Linked DNA regions of Homo sapiens. The protein of the gene in region 2 purifies or fractionates together with the protein of the main gene of each other region. This does not show direct contact. Each region holds a gene or a part of one and is shown on either strand. Other genes may lie near its edges. The genes, in order: GRB14 and FTCD.

Region 1 (3,813 bases), on a different chromosome or scaffold from region 2:
GAGCTTGTTAGCAATGCAAACTTTCAGGGCTCATCCCAGACCTCCTGAATCAGTATCTGCATTTTAACAAGATCCCAGGTGATTCATAAGCAGTAAAATTTGAGAAGCAGTGGAAAAAAAAAAAAAAAAAAAAACACCCCACAGAAGAACACACTGAGCAAAACGGGCAACCCCATTCAAATCCAAAAACCAAAAGAATCTTTCATTGTCATTTACCGGTGTTATTCCACCTCTGATAACTGGCAGAACAAGAGTTTCTCTGTATTCACTGTTCTTAAGCATTTTAATCGAATGAATGACTGTAGTTTCTAACACCATTGGAGAATAAGACAGGAAAGAAAATTGCTTTAAAAAGACCCAGAATAGGACCCTCGGAAAAAGGTAGGAGGAAAGAGAAAGGTAAGCTTATTGCCCTGGCTTTAAAAATCTTATTCCTGGATAAAAATTAATTTGCTGGTAAAAATGTTTGATTTCTAGTAAGATGGAATAAAACCATTCCTGTCCACTGATGCTGTAGAAGTCAATATAGTTCAGTTATTCAAACAAGAGTAAAAGGTAGCTTGAGAAACACTGGAAGGCAATAAGAGGTATGATGAGTTTTTTTCTCTTGATTTTTGTTCCACCACTGCTAAGGCTTATGGCACTATAAGGCTATGAAGTTGAACGGGCATGGTTAGCAAAATCTAAGTATGTGTACATTTGTACATTTCCCCATGTGTACGGACATGGGGAGGTGGAGAGAAGCGTACTTAGAGATTTCTCTGTAAATATATTCATGACCACATCTTTAAGATTTGCAGCAGTAGTTAACTAAATTTAGAACTAAAACCAATCAAGACCTCCTCAGAGAAAAGGATAGGAAATGGTTTCTTTGCAGGTAGAAATGCCATATGTGACATTAGGAGGGGCAGAGCAAGATGTCTGAACAGAAGGCTCTACCTATCCTCCCCCAAGCAGGAACACCAAATTTAACATTTACACCAAAAAAAAGCACCTTTCTAAGAACCAAAATCAGATGAGCACTCACAGTACCTGGTTTTAGAAGGGAGCCCACTACCATAAAGGGTGAGTCTCAGTCCTGGTGCATTCACCACAAGATGACTGGAGAGCCCTTAGGCCTTAAGTGAACATCAGCAGTCCCTGCAGTACTCCCTGGGGACTTCATATCACTGAAAGAGGCACTGAAGGAGGTAGGAAAGACAGTCTTACATTGTCAGTACCTCCCCTCGCCTGTTCCTTAGCAGGAGAAAGAATCTGTGTACTTGGGAGAGGGAGAGCACAGTAACTATGAGACTTTGCATTGAACTCAGTGCTGCCCTGTCACAGTGGAAAGCAAAACCGAACTGAACTCAGCTGACACCTACCCATGGAGGGAGGATTTAGACCAGCCCTAACCAGAGGGGAACCGCCCATCCCAGCAGTTGGAACTCGAGTTCTGGCGAGCCTCCCAACTGCGGACTAAACTGCTCTGAGCCCTAAATAGACATGAAAGGCAGTCTAGGCTGCAAGGACTGCAACTCCTAAGCAAGTCCTAGTGATGAGCTGGGATTGGAAGCCATGCACTTGGAGGGCACACAAGCTGGTGAGCAACAGCTGGGGTGGCTACGGGAGTCCTTGCACTACCCTTCCCACAAGCCCAGGCAGCACAGCTCGTGGCTCCAAAAAGAGATCCCTTCCTTCCACTTGAGGAGAGGAGAGGGAAGAGTAAAGAGGATTCTGTCTTACATCTTGGATACCAGCTTAGCCACAGTAGGACAGGGCACCAGAGTTGTGAGGCCCCTATTCAGAAAGTAGCTCCCAGATGACATTGTTAGACACACCCTGAGCCAGAAGGGAACCCACTGCCTTGAAGGGAAAAACCTAGTCCTGGCAGGATCCATCACCTGCTGACTAAGAGATCTTGGGCCCTGAATAACCAGCAGTGATATCCAGGCAGTAATCCATGGGACTTGGATGAGATCCTAAGATAGATCCTAAGACATGCTGGCTTCAGGTGAAACCTAGCACATTTGCAGTTGTGGTGACTATGGTGAGAGATTCCTTCTGCTTGAGAAAAACAGAGGGAAAAGTAAAGGAGACTTTGTCCTGTATGTTCAATGTATGTTCGATGCTAGCTCGGCCACAGATGGATAGAGCACCAGGATGGTTCTGAGGGGTCCCCAGTTCTGGGCCTCAGCTCTTGGATGACATTTCTGGACATGCTCTGAGTCAGAGGGGAGTCCACTACCATGAAGGGCGAGTCCCAGACCTGGTGGCATTCACCACAAGATGACTGAAGAGCCCTTGGGCCTTAGATGAACATCAGCAGTTGCTAGCAGTACTCCCTGGGGACTTGTAGTAATAGTGGCCAGAGGTGAGGCTCCTCTGCCAGTGAAAAGTGGGGGGAAGAGTGGGAAGGCCTGCGTCTCATGGTTTGAGTGCCTGCTAAGCCACAGTAGAATGGAACAACAGGTAGATTTCCAAGGTTTTTTGTTTATTTGTTTGTTTGTTTGTTTTTGTTTTTTGAGACAGAGTTTCACTCTTGTTGCCCAGGCTGGAGGGCAATGGCGTGATCTCGGCTCACTGCAACCTCTGCCTCCTAGGTTCAAGTGATTCTCCTGCCTTAGCCTCCTGAGTAGCTGGTATTACAGGCTTGTGCCACCACGCCTGGCTAATTTTTGTATTTTTAGTAGAGAAGGGGATTCACCATGTTGGCCAGGCTGGTCTCTAACTCCTGACCTCAGGTAATCCACCCACCTTGGCCTCCCAAAGTACTGCGATTACAGGTGTGAGCCACCACACCTGGCCGATTTCCAGGGTTTTTGGCTATAGTCCCTGGCTCCCAGATGGCATCTCTAGACCAACCCAGGGACTGGGGGAACTTGCTGCCCTGAGGGAAGGACACAAGCCTGGCAGGCTTCACTACGTGCTGACTGTAGAGACCCAGGGCCTTGAGCAAACATAGATGGTAGCCAGGTAGTGGTTCATGAAGCATTATACCACAAGGAAATACATGCACACACATAAGACCCACACACAAGAACAGCAACAAAAGAAAACTGTGTATGAGGGAAAGAAGGAAGCTATACAAGAGCAGTTGGGGGAAAATATGGGAAAAAGTCAGGTATAACTATTTTGCAGCTCCATATCTCCTATCAAGACCATTACCCAAACATCTGGTCTCCGTCGTTAGCTGTTTTGAGCATTGCCATTTGTTTGCTTCATCCTCAATAAAACATATCCAGAACTAAGATCACTATTTGTCTTCTAAGAGAGTTACCTTCTAGTAAATATGCTATTCCTGTTTATTTTTATTTTCTATTTCTTAATTTTCTTTTATCTTTAAGAACATTTTTAACTGCTTCCTCTTCTTTGATATCAATCAGCCACACAAATCTGGCCTTTTGCCATTTAATCTTGTGGCCCCTCTCTCTCTACTTCTCTCTCTTTCTCTTTCCTTCCCACTCCTCCCTCTCTGCCTCCTTTGCCTTCTTCCCTTCAGTCTCTTTTTCTCTCTTTCACTCTCTGTCTCCTTGATCTTTTAAGCTCCCTGTGACCAAACTAATCTCAAGATACTCTTTTGGTAATTTCACTCCCTTGTTCAAACACTTCAATGGCTTTCTGTAGTGGATTGAATAGTAGCCCCCCAAAAAATATGCTCATGCCCTAATACCAGGAAATTATAAATGTAACCTTAATTCAGAAAAAGGGTCACTGAAGATATAATTAAGTTAAGGATCTTGAGATGAGATTATCTAGGTGGGCCCAAAATCCAATGACAAGTGTTGTTATAAGAGACATACAGAGAGAAAGGGAGAAGGCCCTGTGAATACA
Region 2 (3,813 bases):
CTGTTGGAGGAGGCCAAAGCCCCGGGAACTGCCCGTGAAGTGAGGTCTCCCTACCTGGCTCAGCCCAGCCAACCACCGTGCTCTCCAGCAACTCAGCCCCAACAGCTGCTTCCTGCTTTGCGGCAGGAGGCCTGGGGTCCCCCGGGCCCCCCTACCTGGAGGTCTGACCGGCAGGCCAGGTTCCCACACCGGGCCAGTTCCTGCAGGGCCGGCCACAGCGAGGCCACCGTCTCCGCCAGCGTCAGCGGCACAGAGACTGCCCGCCTCAGACCCTCCTGTAGGGCCGCCGTGCGCCTGAAAGGAGCAAGAGGAGAGCCTGAGCACAGCGGCACACACAGGCAGGCAGTGGACACACTGCACCCCAACAGGGCTGAGCAGGCTGCAGAAGCGGGCGATGGGAAGTCATTCCCAAACACCCAGCACGCCCAGGCCAACCACGCCCCGTCACAGCACCCAGGTACTCGGGATCCTGGCCACCAACTCCCCAGACACAGAGGCCCACGGTGCGGCCGGCCCTCCAGGCTCACCTGTCCTTTTCCTCAGGTGTGTTCTTGGGGAGCCTCATTGCTTCCTGCCATAAAGAGACAGAACCACTGGGCGAGGGACCGTAGGGGGAGCAGCCATGCCCTCTGAGCTCCCACAAGGGGCTGTAGCAAGGAGCATGTCCCAGGCAGGGACCAGTTCTCTGGGAACCAAGCTTCTGTTGGGCCAGTGGTTTATAGCCCTTAGCATCAGGCTTGGTGGAGGAGCAGGGTAGGGGGGGTCGGGGCACACAGCAGATGGTCAGAGACCCGGGGATGTGAGAAGCAGGTAGTTCCCTCAGGGCCCTTATTCTCAGCTAAAGAGCCTGAGGGCCCAGGAGGTCCCCTGAGCCCTCAGAACCTGTAGGCAGGAGTGGCTCTGGGCCTGTGTCTCCAACACAAGCAGCTGCACCGCCCCCAAGCCTGGGCATAAGAGGCTCAGACTGTGCAGAAGGACCAAGAGCAAACCTCAAAGCCCCTCATGTCCCTGCCCCGGTCACAGGCACTGGCCTTTCCTAGGTGCTCATGTGTGTAGCTCACGGCGTCACCGTAAGGCACTCGGCTCCTCGGACCCACCCCGTGTGGAAGAGCACAGCTGGGACCACACACCAACCTTCCAAGGACCCACTGGGAGCCCTACTCACACGGACTGTGGCCAGAGCCCTGGCCAAGGGGTTCTCAGTGGGGAATATGCTCACTTCATCTTGGAAGATTCAGCCAACTCTCCACCAGAAAGTCATCATCAACAGCCCCTACCCTCGACCATGGATGAGAGCAAATGCTCCCTGGGCGCCAGCCAGATCTGGATCCTTTGACCATTCCGACAGCAGTGATCGAGGAACAGAAATGCCCAGTGTCTCCCTGACTGGCTGGGGCATCATCCAGACCAGGCCTCCTGGCTGCAGCCCCTCTCCCAGGCTGTCCTCTGCACAAGGGTCTGTAGCAGTTGCAGGCGGAGGCAGGACAGCCATCCTCAAGCTGCGACTCGCGCTACGAACACTCTCTCACACCCAGGCCTTGCGGTGTCCATGGTCTCCCTGGGCAGATCTTGGCCAAGGGTGTGCTTTAGGTGGCCTCATCTGCGTCCGGCCGAGGCCTGCCCGCCCGGTCCGTTTTGTTTTCTGTGATTTATCGTGAGGCTTGGTTGTGTTGGTGGTGGGGAAATACAGTTTTCTATTCCATCTGGAAATTACTTATGTATTTGGTGCAAGGTACAGATATCTCCTTATGTTTTTCAAAAGTCGACCTTTGCATTGCTCAGAGGGAGCATAAACCAATCCAGCACTCCCCGTCCACCTTCACATTGCTCACAGGGAGTGTACACCAACCCAGCACTCCCCGTCCACCTTCACGTGCCTCACAGGGTGCGTAAACCAATGCAGCACTCCCCGTCCACCTTCACATTGTTCACAGGGAATGTAAATCAACCCAGCCCTCCCCGTCCACCTTCGCATTGCTCAGAGGGAGTGTAAACCAACCCAGCACTCCCCCGTCCACCTTCACGTGGCTCACAGGGAGTGTAAACCAATCCAGCACTCCCCGTCCACCTTCGCGTGGCTCACAGGGAGTGTAAACCAACCCAGCACTCCTCGTCCACCTTCACATTGTTCGCAGGGAATGTAAATCAACCCAGCCCTCCCCGTCCACCTTCGCATTGCTCAGAGGGAGTGTAAACCAACCCAGCACTCCCCGTCCACCTTCACGTGGCTCACAGGGAGTGTAAACCAATCCAGCACTCCCCCGTCCACCTTCACGTGGCTCACAGGGAGTGTAAACCCACCCAGCACTCCCCGTCCACCTTCACGTGGCTCACAGGGAGTGTAAACCAATCCAGCACTCCCCGTCTGCCTTCACATTGCTCACAGGGAGCGTAAACCAACCCAGCACTCCCCGTCCACCTTCACGTGGCTCACAGGGAGCGTAAACCAATCCAGCACTCCCCGTCAGCCTTCACATTGCTCACAGGGAGCGTAAACCAATCCAGCACTCCCCGTCTGCCTTCACATTGCTCACAGGGAGCGTAAACCAATCCAGCACTCCCCGTCCACCTTCACGTGGCTCACAGGGAGCGTAAACCAATCCACTGATTTCGACCACTGATGCCTAGCACAGTCTCACTGTCCCCGCTCATGGTTCTCTAAACCACACGTCTTGTTTCCTTCCTGTCCCTTGATTACATTTTCATCTATGTACTTTTCCTACTTGTTTTTTAATTATTCACCTTATTTTAAATTTCTAAACATAAAATTGTTCCTATGTTTTATATACATATGTTTACATTAGAGACAGGGTGTCGTTCTGTTGCCCAGGCTAGAGTGCAGTGGTGCAATCACGACTCACTGCAGCCTCAAACTCCTGGCCTCAAGCTACCCCCACTTAAGCCTCCTGAGTAGCTGGGACCACAGGTACCTGCTACCACGCCTGGCTTTATTTTTTTTTTTTCTTTTTGGGTGGGTAAATACAGGGTCTTGGTGTGTGGTCTAGGCTGGTTTCAAACACCTGAGCTCAAGGGATTTGCCCACCTTGGTTTTCCAAAATGCTAGGATTACAGGTGTGAGCTATCATGCCTGGCCTATTTCTAATATTTATACTTAAATTCATGACTGTCTTCAAATGCCTGTCCGGGTCTAAAGTTCATCAACCCATTAAAGTATAGAAAAGATCATCTTGTTCTGGGGAGGCCATTTGAACTGTGATACAAGACCCAAAAAATATAAAGTCAGGATTGACACATTCCACGACATAAAGATTAAGAGTCATTGTCAGAAGCCCCACACGCAAAGTCCAAAGACGAACAACAAACGGGGAAAGCTGAGCCCAGAACAAGGCCTGCCTCCCCTATTAAAAAAAAAAAATACTAGAAGGCAGCGAAAGCCCCAAGAGAAACTAAGATAAAAGGAGTCAAAAAATATTCACCAGATAACTTCCTGGAAAAGAAGTAAAAACCACTGCTAAATGTACGGAACATGCTTAACCTGCCCGGTAATGAGAAGCGCATCCCAGAAAGCAGGGTTCTGCAAGCAGGTGTTGGGTGCCCTGGGCCCCCCCGGGGAGGGGGGTGCTTCCCCCAGTGGAAAACCCAAGGGGCCAGGCTGGGAGCGGGCGGGGCTGTGTGCGAGGGGAAGGAAAGGCGGAGCTCTGAGGCAGCAAGAGAGGCGAGCACTGGGCGGGCTGTGGCGAAGGCGGGGTGAACCCCCGAAGGGCCTATCTACTGTAAAAAGTAAATAAATAAAACCTGAATTTTTAAAATGACTGGAAACGGTGATCAGCGTCTACACCTCCCTGCAAACAG

What was found.
Region 1: the proteins of FTCD (region 2) and GRB14 fractionate together in Homo sapiens (co-fractionation; one study listed by BioGRID). This does not show direct contact.

Annotation. Positions count from the first base shown.
Region 1 is NC_000002.12:164,509,680-164,513,492, forward strand, and holds part of GRB14 (growth factor receptor-bound protein 14), read right to left. Parts: intron 1-3,813. UniProt on the Homo sapiens protein: Adapter protein which modulates coupling of cell surface receptor kinases with specific signaling pathways. Binds to, and suppresses signals from, the activated insulin receptor (INSR). Potent inhibitor of insulin-stimulated MAPK3 phosphorylation.
Region 2 is NC_000021.9:46,138,353-46,142,165, forward strand, and holds part of FTCD (formimidoyltransferase-cyclodeaminase), read right to left. Parts: intron 572-3,813; coding exon 528-571; intron 295-527; coding exon 156-294; intron 1-155.